2 linked regions of the Homo sapiens genome follow. The protein of the gene in region 2 interacts with the protein of the main gene of each other region in a pairwise test. Each region holds a gene or a part of one and is shown on either strand. Other genes may lie near its edges.

Region 1 (9,024 bases), on a different chromosome or scaffold from region 2:
AGAAAAAAGAAAAAGAAAAACTAGGAGGAGTCAAATAAGGCTGGGTCCAGAAAGGAGGCAATGGAAGACTGGAAGACTGCTTAAATAGAACTTGCTCAGACTCAGAAGCAGAAGAAACCTTAGGTTTCCCTACAATAAGTCAATTTGCAAGGGGCAGAAAATAAGTTGGTTTAGGCCAGAAACTCTGCTGAGAAATAAAGATTGCATGTTGGATGGCATGTCCAAGTGTTGTATGTCTTAGGAATCGGCCCAGATGTTCACAGCAGATGAGGAACAGCATGGAACACACAGCTGCTTCCTATTAAGTGATTTTCACTCTTCTAGTCACAGGCTTTACAGGGTTTAGATTTACACTCTTCTATTTGCAGCAGTCCTACTATCTCTGGAATGTTCTGGCTGGCTTTACAAATTCTGCCTTATTTTCTTCATAGCACTTAACAATATCTAAAATTATATTATTAATTTATTTTCTATCCTCCCTGCTAGAATGTAAGCTCCATCAAAGCAAGAATTCTGTCTTATTGGTGGCTCTCTCCCCAGTGCCTACAACACTGGCTACCATAGATGAAGGCTCCCTAAATATATCTAATGAATGGAGATCACCATGTTGTTTAAAAAACCGATTCTTTCTAGACATCAATTTTAATAAAATCAGATTTACTATGTCCTAGTTTGGTTAGGAAAGTTTTTCACCATTGTTTGAAATTTCTCTTAGTCTCAGTCTTAAAATACAGCTCTCTGTGATGAGTATATAAAGTAACTGTAAATGGATCTTTTAGGTGATCCTTAAATGAAATTGGATGAAGTCTATAGAATTCATACAACCCAGAAGAGAATACTCACCTCTATCGTGTAAGGGCTGGGATCCCAGAGATTCATGCTTGAACAGAGCCTTCATTGGCTGGCACTGGCTACTTTGAGACCCTTGAGTTTGTGTCAATAGTGCCATCTTGCAACAGAGCAGTTCTTGCCCCTGGTCACCAACGGGAACCTAGAAGTCACGATTTTTAGTTATCTACCCAACATTTCTATGTTTTCCATGTGCAAGTGATTTCTATTTTCTAGGCACTGTTTCTACAAGCCTTATGATATTAACACAATTAATATAGATAACAACCCTGTGAGCTATTATTTTGGATTTTTATGATAAGTTGCTGAAAACGGAGATGTGGCCCGGATCCTCTCTCCTGAGTGGACAGCATTTTTTTTGTTGTTGTTGGTTTTTTTGTTTTTTTTTTTTTGAGACGGAATTTCACTCTTGTTGCTCAGGCTGGAATGCAATGGCATGATCTCACCTCACCGCAACTTCCGCCTCCGGGGTTCAAGCAATTCTCCTGCCTCAGCCTCCCTAGTAGCTGGGATTACAGCCATGTGCCACCACGCCCGGCTAATGTTTTGTACTTTTAGTAGAGACCGGGTTTCTCCATGTTGGTCAGGCTGGTCTCGAACTCCCGACCTCAGGTGATCCGCCCACCTCAGCCTCCCAAAGTGCTGGGATTACAGGCGTGAGCCACTGCACCCAGCCAAGGGTGGACAGTGTTTAAGCAGCTTGCCCATGTCACCCAGCTAATAAGTGGAAATGCTAGGATGGGAGCTCAGACAGAATGACTCCAGATCCCGTGTTCTTACCATTACTCTAGGCTCCCTCATTATATACATCTGTGTGTTTACGAAAACCCTTTGGACACTGGTGCTAAATTCTCAATACTAATATATTTTCTAATCTGAAAAATGAGGATAATAATTTCTACTTTATGAGGTTTTGGAGACCAGTAAATAAGATCACAGTATGTGACATCACCTAACACAGGGCCTGGCACATAGTTATGTCCTCATTAAAAGCAGGTTTCCTTCCAGACATTGATAGTTAAATTACAGTTTTCAAGTTACTGTCTCACGTGCAGCTCAGAATTTCCCACATATTTTATGAAGAATGAAGCTAAGAGATTTGCAATGACTTCCCACTGCTACAGGGCTTGCGTGCAATAGACCTAAGTCAAGAACCTTGGTATCCAGCTCACCAGTTAGAAGATTTGGCCACACAGGTCCTCTGAAGTTGTGTGCACAGGGACACAGGACGATGCAAAGAGGAAACAGTCCCTCATAAAACAGGGAAGAACATGGAGGTAAAAATAGGCCCACTTTCTACCAGAGGTTCATAACCAGTGGTCCATGGACTTTCTCCCAAGTGGTCCATGAACTTAGAAAGGACAAAAACTAATCTTATTTTTACTGGTCTTTAAGAGAGAGTTAACATTTCCTTCAATTATGAATGGAAGCAACAAATCAAGGTAGCATAAGCAGTACCCAGGACTTTGTCACCAACAAAACCTGCACGTTTTCACACCACATTACAACCAGGCAAATAGATGCTTATCGCCATTTTGAAATTGCCAATTATAAGCCCTGTCCCTAGGTCTTATTATTTAGTGCAGTAATAAAAATCCACATATATGACTTTAATACAAATTTAATTCTTTGCTAACTGTATGTCAATATAGTTGTGTTCTTTTGTAATCCTTTATAGTTTCTTTATATATTTAAAAATATAATTCTGAGAAGGAGTCCAGGGACTTCACCTTACTGCCAAGGAGGTTCACAGTACAAAAAGAGATGAAGAACTCCTGGACCTTAAAGGAATGCCCCTCGCTCCGATCTGGGATTTCAGGAGGAAACAGACCACAGCGCTCAGATACTAAACCTGTTCTTTCTACCTGCGGCGCCGGCTCATCCAGCTGCCTCTCCAAATACTCCAATAGCACCACCACCTCCTCCCCGCTCTCTGGATGCTGCTCCCGCACCCAGCTCTGCAGATTCCCCGGCAGGATGGTCAGGAACTGCTCCAGCACCAGCAGCTCCAGGATCTGCTCCTTGCTGTGCATCTCAGGCTGCAGCCATTGTCCGCAGAGTTCTCGGAGCCGGCTCAACGCCTCGCGGGGGCCCGCAGCCTCCGGGTAGCGGAAGCCTCGGAAGCGCTGGCGGGAGCGTTCGGGGCCCCGAGCAGGGCTGCAGGGTGCTCTCACCTCCGCCGTCAAGGCGGAGGCTTCCTCCTTCTCCACCTTCACGGTCAGGAGCCCCGTCTGGTCTTCTGCAGACTGGGCGTCCAGGGCTGCGTTTTTTCTCGGTTCTCTAGCCATTCTGACCCAAGGCAGTACTCGGGTCTCACTCTAGTTGCGACCTGTATATCTTCAGAGGATTCTGGAAGGGTGGTAAATTTTCCAGTAGAACTGCAAGTGGTCCCCCTCCTGTCATGCCCAGGGGCCCAGGACACCCCCTGAGGCGCAGCTGCACAGATCTCTCTTATAGTCCGTGCCTTTGCAGGGTCGTCCTCTGCACCCCACTCTGAATCCCACAGTAAGTATCACCAAAGGATGTCTTTGGGAGTGAAAGTGATCACTCTCCAGACATAGGAGGGAAGTTGAGGCTGGGGCACAGGAAGTCTCGATGGGAACTAAGGCCACTTCCTGGGCGCTCTAGGAAGCTTCTCTCGGTGGTTGTCTCCGAATTAACCCATTAGCTACCCTGTCCTTACCTCCACGCAAGGGAAGGCAGTTAAGGGATAGAGAAGGAAAGGATGACAGACCTTGGATCATAAGAAATAGGACTGAGCCTTTAAATCCTGGAAGGATGCCGCTGCGGCTCATATTTCTTTCCTATGTAAAGCTTGCTTAAGCAGCTGGCATAAAATTGACACTAAAATTGAGCTGGAAAGCAGGGGTTCCCCAGAGCCCCAAGAACCCTGGCAGGGGGACCTTTAGTCTCTCTCAGAAACATCAAAGCAGCAGAACACATCACCAGGCACTTGCCTGGAGCGAGCAGTGGCTGCCCTTGGTCCTTCCCCACTCACCCCCTTAATCTGTCACTTTTTTTCCTCCTCCTTAAGGCCAGACTACTCCTCCCGACCCTGACTGTAGCCCTCACCTCCCACTAATCCTCAACACACTGTCCCACTCCCCCACTCACCACTTTGCACATTCCATGGCTGCTTCTCTGGCAATCAGGCTTATGCTGCTCTCCACCTCCAGAAACTCTCTAGTCTCTGGCTTCAGGGACCCCATTCTCTTCTGCTTTCTTCCTTCCTGTTTCTTCCCAGCCCCCAATCACAGTCAAGCACAGTGGCTAGATACGCAGGTAGCCAGGTTACCTGTGTAATCCTGGCTTACCCTCCCTGTGCCCGACTTTTCCAATCTGTAAATAGGGAAAGTAATAGTAGATAGGGATGTTGTAGGCATTACTAGGGATTAGATAATGTTGTGAGCACTCTTGTGTAAAGTGCTTAGAACAGTGCCTGGCATGTGATAAACTAGGCCTATCCTATAATAGAAGAAAGCCCTGAGAATTCTTTGAACTAGATGGGACTCGATTTTAAGCCATAATTGACTGTAAGTTATTTGACTGGACACTTCAGTAAGCCCCTTTCTGCCCAGTGGAATGGAGAAGCTACAAAATGCAAGTTCAGTAGTTTATGAGGGGAAAAAATATCATGTCAGTACTTTCTTGAGTTTTTCTTTCTTTGCCTATGCCTCTACATTCCAAGGATTAAGAAATAACATAACTTAAGAAAATGAGAAGTCCCAAAGACTGTTGCAAATGAAAAATACTACAAAATATCTTTCTCTTGATGAGCTACCACAGAAGGTAGGGGGCACTGCCCATGAAGTATCCTTATAAGTGAACTTGAATCTAAGTACTTTTCTAGATCCAAATATTTACAGAAATAAGTTAAGTTAGCAGTTTTCACACTCTGTGTCACACAGAATCACTGGGGAGCTTTTAAAACATCCTGATACCTAGGCTGCAACCAAGATCAATTAAATCAGAATGTCACAGGATGGGACTCAGGCATTAATAACATTTTTTGGTTGTTTTTGTTTGTTTTGCGACAGAGTCTTGCTGTGTCACCCAGGGCTGGAGTGCAGTGGCGCAATCTTGGCTCACTGAAACCTCCACTTCCTGGGTTCAAGTGATTCTAGTGCCTCAGCCACCCGAGTAGCTGGGATTACAGACATGCGTCACCATGCTGGTCTCAAACTCCTGGCCTCAAGTGATCTGCCCACCTCAGCCTCCCAAAGTGCTGGGATTACAGGTGTGAGCCACCACGCCTGGCCAACTTTCCTAGGTGATTCCAACATGCAGGTGAGTTTGAGAGTTAAGGAATTAAATGACACTTTAAAAAATCAATCAGCCAAATCCAACATGTGGGACATTCTATAGAACAGAATGATGCAGGACAAGTGAGCCCCAAAATTAGGGCTTAGCTCAAAAGGATGCTTTGCTTCGCCCAGGGAAGAGTTCAAGGGCAAGCCAGTGGTATTAGGCAGCAACTTTTATTGAAGTGTCAGTGTACAGCAGCAGCAGAGGTACTGCTCCTTACAGAGCAGGGCTACCCCCTAGGCAGTGTGCTCAGACTAGCAGCTCAAAAGCAGTTCTGCAGTCACATTTATACCTACATTTAATTATATGCAAATTAAGCACCAGATTATGCAGAAATTTCTAGAAAAGGGGTATTACCTTCTGAGTCACTTGGTCATGGCCATGGAAAGGGGTGGCAACTTCCCTGTGTTGCCATGGCAATGGTAACTGACATTGCACACTGGTGGGTATGTCTGGTGGAGAGGTGATACTGCCTCTTCCCTCTTTTAGCTAGTCCTCAATTTGGTCAGGTGTTGGAGCCCCACTTCTGGAGTTGAATTCTGCCTCCTACCTCATTCCTCCCTCAGGGATTAGATATGCCTTCTTAATTTTAAGCAGGCTGCAGAAGGGCAGTGGTCCATCTTCTGTAACTGCTTCCTGCTTAGTTTATGGGCATAGGCCCTGCCTAGCACTGGAAGAGTAAAAATCTCTGGATACCATATCTAAAGGCGGGATGCTTTTATTTTCTGGGTCAGTAGATGGGATGGGTTGGAAGCCCTGCGACGGCATTTTCTTTATCTGGAACTGTTGTAATTTAGAAGACACAGATTTTATAAAGACGTTAAACAAGCAAGGGCCAAAGATTAGTAATAACAAGATGGCTATTAAAGGTCCTAGGAGAGATAAAAACTAGGTGAGACTTTGTATGGCACTTCTGATAATTGACCAGATATAGTTGGGTTCAGTGCCCTGATTATAGATATGTAACCCGGTATCTTGCTTATAGATCTTGTGAATGTTAAATTCAACCTGTTCAGAGTTGTTACTACATGTGCAGCAGGTTTTATTAATAATTGCACAGACTCCATCTTGTTTGGCTAGTAAATAACCTATACATTTGGGCTGGCAAGTCAGGGGCTCTTCTCTGGGCATTCCAGACACCCATCTTGTGACACTATTTCAGGATGGGTAACCCTCAGGGGTCAGGGGACTTAAAGCATTTGCTAATAATTGCACTTTTTGGCTATTGTTAAATCTCTTTTGCCCTGTCCCTATTGTTGTAAACTTTAAAGGCCATATTTAAATGGCTCATAGGGGTTTGAGGTCCTATTGCTGCTTTTTATAGCTTTCTCCTAGGATAAGGGGCAGATTGAGTAATAAAATGCATACCTAGGAGAGCTTGTCCTTTTTGGGAGTCTGAGTCTGCATTAGTATATGTCCTGAGTGTTTCACCAAAATGACCCTGAAATAGAGTGGGATTTTCTCATTTTCCCTGAGTTATTTCTTTAACCTTGTCATAAATGACTGGCTTAACCACACAATTTTTCCTTACCTTTTTTCTTTTCATGGCACAGCAAGCAAATGACAATACTTGCAAGTCATGACAAGTTAAAGAATATGGTAAAATGTATAAGCCTTTTTTTTTGATTCTCTGAAAACTGGCCAAATTTTTCCTTGTATAAAGCCAAATTAGAGATAGACAATGCCCCATGTACTCTAAGTGTTCCTCCATTTCCATCAGCTACCTCCTGCAATGGACATAGGTTTGACTTTAGGGGCTTATATGGGGCCCTACTCCTGGTGGTCCTGGTTGGGCTTACTTTTTTGGGCCCTGGGGGGTAAAGGCTGGGGGTAGTTGGATAAGGGAAAGGGGTGCCTGATGACCTTGAGTTAGAATCCTTCATTAGAAAACTAATGGGACTACTCTCAGAATAGGATTAAGGAGACTTCAGACAGGGCATAGGATGATATTGTGATTATGAAGGAAAATGTCCTTTTTATGCATTCATGACTGAAATAGTTAGAGGTGAAGCATCATAATGTCTGCAATTTTCTTTCAATTGAGTAAGAAACCAAATCGTAACAACTAGTGAATCTAGGTAAATGATATATGGGTGTTTGAACTTTTCTGTAGGTTTGAAAGTTTTTAAAATAAAAATTGGGAGCTGGGCATGGTGGCTTATGCCTGTAATGCTAGCACTTTCTGAGGCTGAGGTCAGAGGGTCACTTGAGCCCAGGAGTTCAAGACCAGCCTGGGCAACATCTGTCTAGAGACAGGGTCTAGTTCTACAAAAAATCAAAAATCAGTTGAGCATGGTGGCACACAGCTGTGGTCCCAGCTACTCAGGAGGCTCAAATGGAAGGACCACTTAAGCCCAGGAGGTCAAGGGTACACAGTGAGCCATGATAGTACCACTCCACTCTAGCATGGGCAACAGAGTAAGACCCTGTCTCAAAAAATAATAAAATAAAATAAAAACTAGAGGAAAGATTTATGAAAAACAATTTTGAGAAATTTTAAGAAAGGTAGTAAAAGGTTACCTGTGAGAACAATTCCATTTTAGCTGAGCATTCAACATCTGGTACTTTCCTTGATAATTAAAATGTATTGTTATTTCAAAAACTGTCCCTATTTTCTTAAAGTTCTTCAAATATATTTCTATGCTGTATGCAAATGAACATTTGCTCATCTATAAATAAAATTTAGAAAATAAAAGCCCATCCTCCCATTAAAAAGGTATGGTAGGCATTTATTTTTATCCCTATAAGCATACTTTTTGCACCACTGCTTTTTCTGCTAAGTCAGGGGTTAGCAAACTGCTGCCTACAGACCAAAATTGCCCCATGGCCTGTTTTTTAATGGTCTGAGTGAGGAATTATCTTTATATTTTTTAATGGCTTGGGGAAAAATCAAAAGAATAATAAAATTTAGTAACGTGAAAATCATATGAAATTCACTTCAGTGTCTATAAATAAAGTTTTGTTGGAACACAGCCATATTCATTCACTTACATATTGTCTATGGCTACTTTTGACCTACAAGGGCAGAACCCTAATTAAGCAAAATGTTATTCATCCAAAAAACAATTTCATTCTTCCCATTAGAAAATATGCATTGCAAAATTATACTCAATTATTATAGTTTGAATAATAATATAATTATATTGCATCAATGAAAATGTGCTTTTTCTTTTGTTATAAGTATGTAATATACACCATGGAATACTATACAGCCATAAGAAAGGAATGAGATCATGTTCTTTGCAGGCACATGGATGAAGCTAGAAGCCATTATCCTCAGCAAACTAACACAGGAAGAGAAAACCAAACACTGCATGTTCTCATAAGTGGGAGTTTAACAATGAGAACACATGGACACAGCGAGTGGAACAACACACACAAGGGCCTGTGGGGGGTGGAGGATGGGAGGGAGAGCAGCAGGACAAATAGCTAATGCATGTGGGGCTTAAAACCTAGATGATGGGTTGATAGGTGCAGCAAAGCACCATGGCGTGTGTATACCTATGTAACAAACCTGCATGTTCTACACATGTATCCCAGAACTTATAATAAAAATTAAAAAAAAACAGTTATCTCTTCCTTGGAATAATTGAACAAATTGTTGATTATGCTTTATCATTTAAAATAAATGTATATTTTGTCTTAAAAAAAGTATGTAATAATATCCTCAATTTTGCCTCTTGGCCCACAAAGCCTAAAATATTTACTATTGGCCTTTTGCAGAAAAGGATTGCCAGCCCCTAGTCTAGGTCATAACTTTTCTAAAGATCAAAAATATATTCTAAATTTCATTTTCCTGTGTCGCTACCTGAAAGAAGTATTTCATCAACCAGCTTTGTAATTCAAGTCTACATCAGATACTAAATGGCT
Region 2 (4,438 bases):
GGTGGTGAGGGGATGTACAGAGAGGAATGAGACCCTCTTTTGCTCTCAGCAACATCACAGGGTGTAGAAAGTTGTCCAAACAATTCCAAAGGGGGGCTTATCAAGACAGGGTTCAGAAAAAGGCCTGAGACCCAAGGGACATTAAAGGAGGGGGTTGAATCTATTTTGGGGTGTAGAGGCTTGAAGATTTGACCCTGAACTAGAGGGTGGAGTGGAGGTGGTACAATGTGCTTCCATGCCTTGATGTCCACTCTGAGCCAGTGGACAGGAGAAGCCATGTCATGACAGCTGCTGAGAAGCCTCCCTTCTGCCCAGCCTGGGGGCAGGCCGTCTTACAGCAGTCCTGTGCCCTAGAGCCCAGGACAGGGGAAGAAGGAGGGAAAGGCATCCAGGGCCCTGCATCTGGCCTCTTTCCCACAGGTGAAGAGATCAGCGTGGTCCCCAATCGGTGGCTGGATGCCAGCCTGTCCCCCGTCATCCTGGGTGTCCAGGGTGGAAGCCAGTGCCTGTCATGTGGGGTGGGGCAGGAGCCGACTCTAACACTAGAGGTGAGACTTGGGGCATCCTCACTGGGGACTCAGCCACAGATGCTGAGCCTACTGAAGCCGGGCAGCCCACAGCCCTGGTGCTGTGGGACACCCTAGCAGGATTCTGTTGATGGCAGCTTTGCCTCCTCCCTAAGGATCCTGCCCAGCCCTCCCTCTGCCCCTGCTTCTGCCCTCACCTGACCTCCCCTCCTCTGCCGGCAGCCAGTGAACATCATGGAGCTCTATCTTGGTGCCAAGGAATCCAAGAGCTTCACCTTCTACCGGCGGGACATGGGGCTCACCTCCAGCTTCGAGTCGGCTGCCTACCCGGGCTGGTTCCTGTGCACGGTGCCTGAAGCCGATCAGCCTGTCAGACTCACCCAGCTTCCCGAGAATGGTGGCTGGAATGCCCCCATCACAGACTTCTACTTCCAGCAGTGTGACTAGGGCAACGTGCCCCCCAGAACTCCCTGGGCAGAGCCAGCTCGGGTGAGGGGTGAGTGGAGGAGACCCATGGCGGACAATCACTCTCTCTGCTCTCAGGACCCCCACGTCTGACTTAGTGGGCACCTGACCACTTTGTCTTCTGGTTCCCAGTTTGGATAAATTCTGAGATTTGGAGCTCAGTCCACGGTCCTCCCCCACTGGATGGTGCTACTGCTGTGGAATCTTGTAAAAACCATGTGGGGTAAACTGGGAATAACATGAAAAGATTTCTGTGGAGGTGGGGTGGGGGAGTGGTGGGAATCATTCCTGCTTAATGGTAACTGACCAGTGTTACCCTGAGCCCCGCAGGCCAACCCATCCCCAGTTGAGCCTTATAGGGTCAGTAGCTCTCCACATGAAGACCTGTCACTCACCACTATGCAGGAGAGGGAGGTGGTCATAGAGTCAGGGATCTATGGCCCTTGGCCCAGCCCCACCTCCTTCCCTTTAATCCTGCCACTGTCATATGCTACCTTTCCTATCTCTTCCCTCATCATCTTGTTGTGGGCATGAGGAGGTGCTGATGTCAGAAGAAATGGCTCGAGCTCAGAAGATAAAAGATAAGTAGGGTATGCTGATCCTCTTTTAAAAACCCAAGATACAATCAAAATCCCAGATGCTGGTCTCTATTCCCATGAAAAAGTGCTCATGACATATTGAGAAGACCTACTTACAAAGTGGCATATATTGCAATTTATTTTAATTAAAAGATACCTATTTATATATTTCTTTATAGAAAAAAGTCTGGAAGAGTTTACTTCAATTGTAGCAATGTCAGGGTGGTGGCAGTATAGGTGATTTTTCTTTTAATTCTGTTAATTTACCTGTATTTCCTAATTTTTCTACAATGAAGATGAATTCCTTGTATAAAAATAAGAAAAGAAATTAATCTTGAGGTAAGCAGAGTAGACATCATCTCTGATTGTCCTCAGCCTCCACTTCCCCAGAGTAAATTCAAATTGAATCGAGCTCTGCTGCTCTGGTTGGTTGTAGTAGTGATCAGGAAACAGATCTCAGCAAAGCCACTGAGGAGGAGGCTGTGCTGAGTTTGTGTGGCTGGAATCTCTGGGTAAGGAACTTAAAGAACAAAAATCATCTGGTAATTCTTTCCTAGAAGGATCACAGCCCCTGGGATTCCAAGGCATTGGATCCAGTCTCTAAGAAGGCTGCTGTACTGGTTGAATTGTGTCCCCCTCAAATTCACATCCTTCTTGGAATCTCAGTCTGTGAGTTTATTTGGAGATAAGGTCTCTGCAGATGTAGTTAGTTAAGACAAGGTCATGCTGGATGAAGGTAGACCTAAATTCAATATGACTGGTTTCCTTGTATGAAAAGGAGAGGACACAGAGACAGAGGAGATGCGGGGAAGACTATGTAAAGATGAAGGCAGAGATCGGAGTTTTGCAGCCACAAGCTAAGAAACACCAAGGATTGTGGCAACCATCAGAAGCTTGGAAGAGGCAAAGAAGAATTCTTCCCTAGAGGCTTTAGAGGGATAACGGCTCTGCTGAAACCTTAATCTCAGACTTCCAGCCTCCTGAACGAAGAAAGAATAAATTTCGGCTGTTTTAAGCCACCAAGGATAATTGGTTACAGCAGCTCTAGGAAACTAATACAGCTGCTAAAATGATCCCTGTCTCCTCGTGTTTACATTCTGTGTGTGTCCCCTCCCACAATGTACCAAAGTTGTCTTTGTGACCAATAGAATATGGCAGAAGTGATGGCATGCCACTTCCAAGATTAGGTTATAAAAGACACTGCAGCTTCTACTTGAGCCCTCTCTCTCTGCCACCCACCGCCCCCAATCTATCTTGGCTCACTCGCTCTGGGGGAAGCTAGCTGCCATGCTATGAGCAGGCCTATAAAGAGACTTACGTGGTAAAAAATGAAGTCTCCTGCCCACAGCCACATTAGTGAACCTAGAAGCAGAGACTCTGTGAGATAATCGATGTTTGTTGTTTTAAGTTGCTCAGTTTTGGTCTAACTTGTTATGCAGCAATAGATAAATAATATGCAGAGAAAGAGAAACAAATGCATTTGTTTTATTATTGCAATTTTCTCCAATATTTTTTATTTTCTTTCTCACAATGAACAACTATCCTTCATTTACCCAAATATTCTATTTAAAAGCTAATAATACAGCATTTGTTGAGTCATCTGGTTCTGCAAGATTGAGATCCTCTTGTCCTATGTGCCAGGAATGAACTCCAGTGTCCCCACCCAAACCCTGGGGAATGGGAGCAGAAGCCAGAGGAGGAGCCCATATCTGAGCCCCAGGTATTCCACCTGCACTTCACCTGTTGGACCAGCTTGGTGGTTGAGAGTCCACTGAGGCACTGGCAAGGAGGTGGCCAGGACAGACAAGGCTGCCTCTATGGACCTCACAGCTCCAGCCCAGATTCAGCTGAAGTCCTCAGGCAACAGGCAGCACAGCTCCTACCCCAGGCCTCTCAGGGCTGCCAAGAACATGAGCTCCGGATGCTAGGCTGTGTTTCAGACCCTGTTCACACTCTCTTTGTCCATGGGCCCAGACACAGTCTTGTGCTGCTCCCTCTGCTTTTGGGTCCTCCATCCATCCTCTCTGCCTAGATAAATCTCTCATCTTTCAATACCCTGCTAAGATGTCACCTCCTCCAAGAAGCTTTTACTGAGTTGAGACACCCCCAGCTATCTGATCTGGCAATGTTTGTATGCACCTCCCTGCACTGTAGTACCTTAACTTGGAGTCTGTGGCCCCTGGGATGACCTTAAGGTTAGGGACATATAAGTTTGTCTCTTAGCACCTTGCATAATGCTTGGCACATAATGGAAACCCAATGAGTATATAATGTAGAAACTATTTCTCCACCCTGGAATATTCTCTCCTTCTCCTCCACCCATCTAAACAGGCCCACCTCTAAGGGAGCAGCTTAAATTCCACCTCATTCTTGAAGGTTTCTCCAGCCTGAATTTGTTGCTTCCTCATTTGTAGGATGACAGAACTCAGAAGAGCTTTAGCCATGATGAGCCGACACAAGTCAGTAGTAAAAGAAGGAATATAAAATGCCTCCTTCAGGAATGTACAGGCTGGACATCATGACTCTACAAGTGAAAAAGAGTTAGTGGCTTTAGATTTCTGCAATTTTGGTATAAATCACTGGCCTGGACCTGTATTTACAGAGATGCAATACTCACATCATGTGGGGTTTGTACAAATTGCAGACATCGAGGAACAGAGAATGTTCCAAGGGCAGGCTGTAGGGAAGAGGCTACGATGTGGGAGGTATTATCCTGAAAAAAGCAATGCACAGGGAGCCCTCTTCAAGCACTTAAAGGCTTGCCAAGTAGAAGAATGTGCTTGTTCTGTGTAATTCCAGAACACACAAGCAGAACCAATGGGTGCAAATTATGTGGAGGCTGTTTTTCCTATATGACCCCCATATTTT

Evidence for each region.
Region 1: the proteins of IL36RN (region 2) and ZKSCAN4 interact in binary tests that used the Homo sapiens proteins (3 or more experiments, as listed by UniProt).

What each region holds. Positions count from the first base shown.
Region 1 is NC_000006.12:28,248,844-28,257,867, forward strand, and holds the start of ZKSCAN4 (zinc finger protein with KRAB and SCAN domains 4), read right to left. Parts: upstream 3,427-9,024; 5' UTR 3,138-3,426; coding exon 2,715-3,137; exon of another isoform or gene 2,702-2,714; intron 2,546-2,701; exon of another isoform or gene 2,022-2,545; intron 992-2,021; coding exon 844-991; intron 1-843. UniProt on the Homo sapiens protein: May be involved in the transcriptional activation of MDM2 and EP300 genes.
Region 2 is NC_000002.12:113,061,704-113,066,141, forward strand, and holds the end of IL36RN (interleukin-36 receptor antagonist protein), read left to right. Parts: intron 1-420; coding exon 421-548; intron 549-749; coding exon 750-974; 3' UTR 975-3,041; downstream 3,042-4,438. UniProt on the Homo sapiens protein: Inhibits the activity of interleukin-36 (IL36A,IL36B and IL36G) by binding to receptor IL1RL2 and preventing its association with the coreceptor IL1RAP for signaling.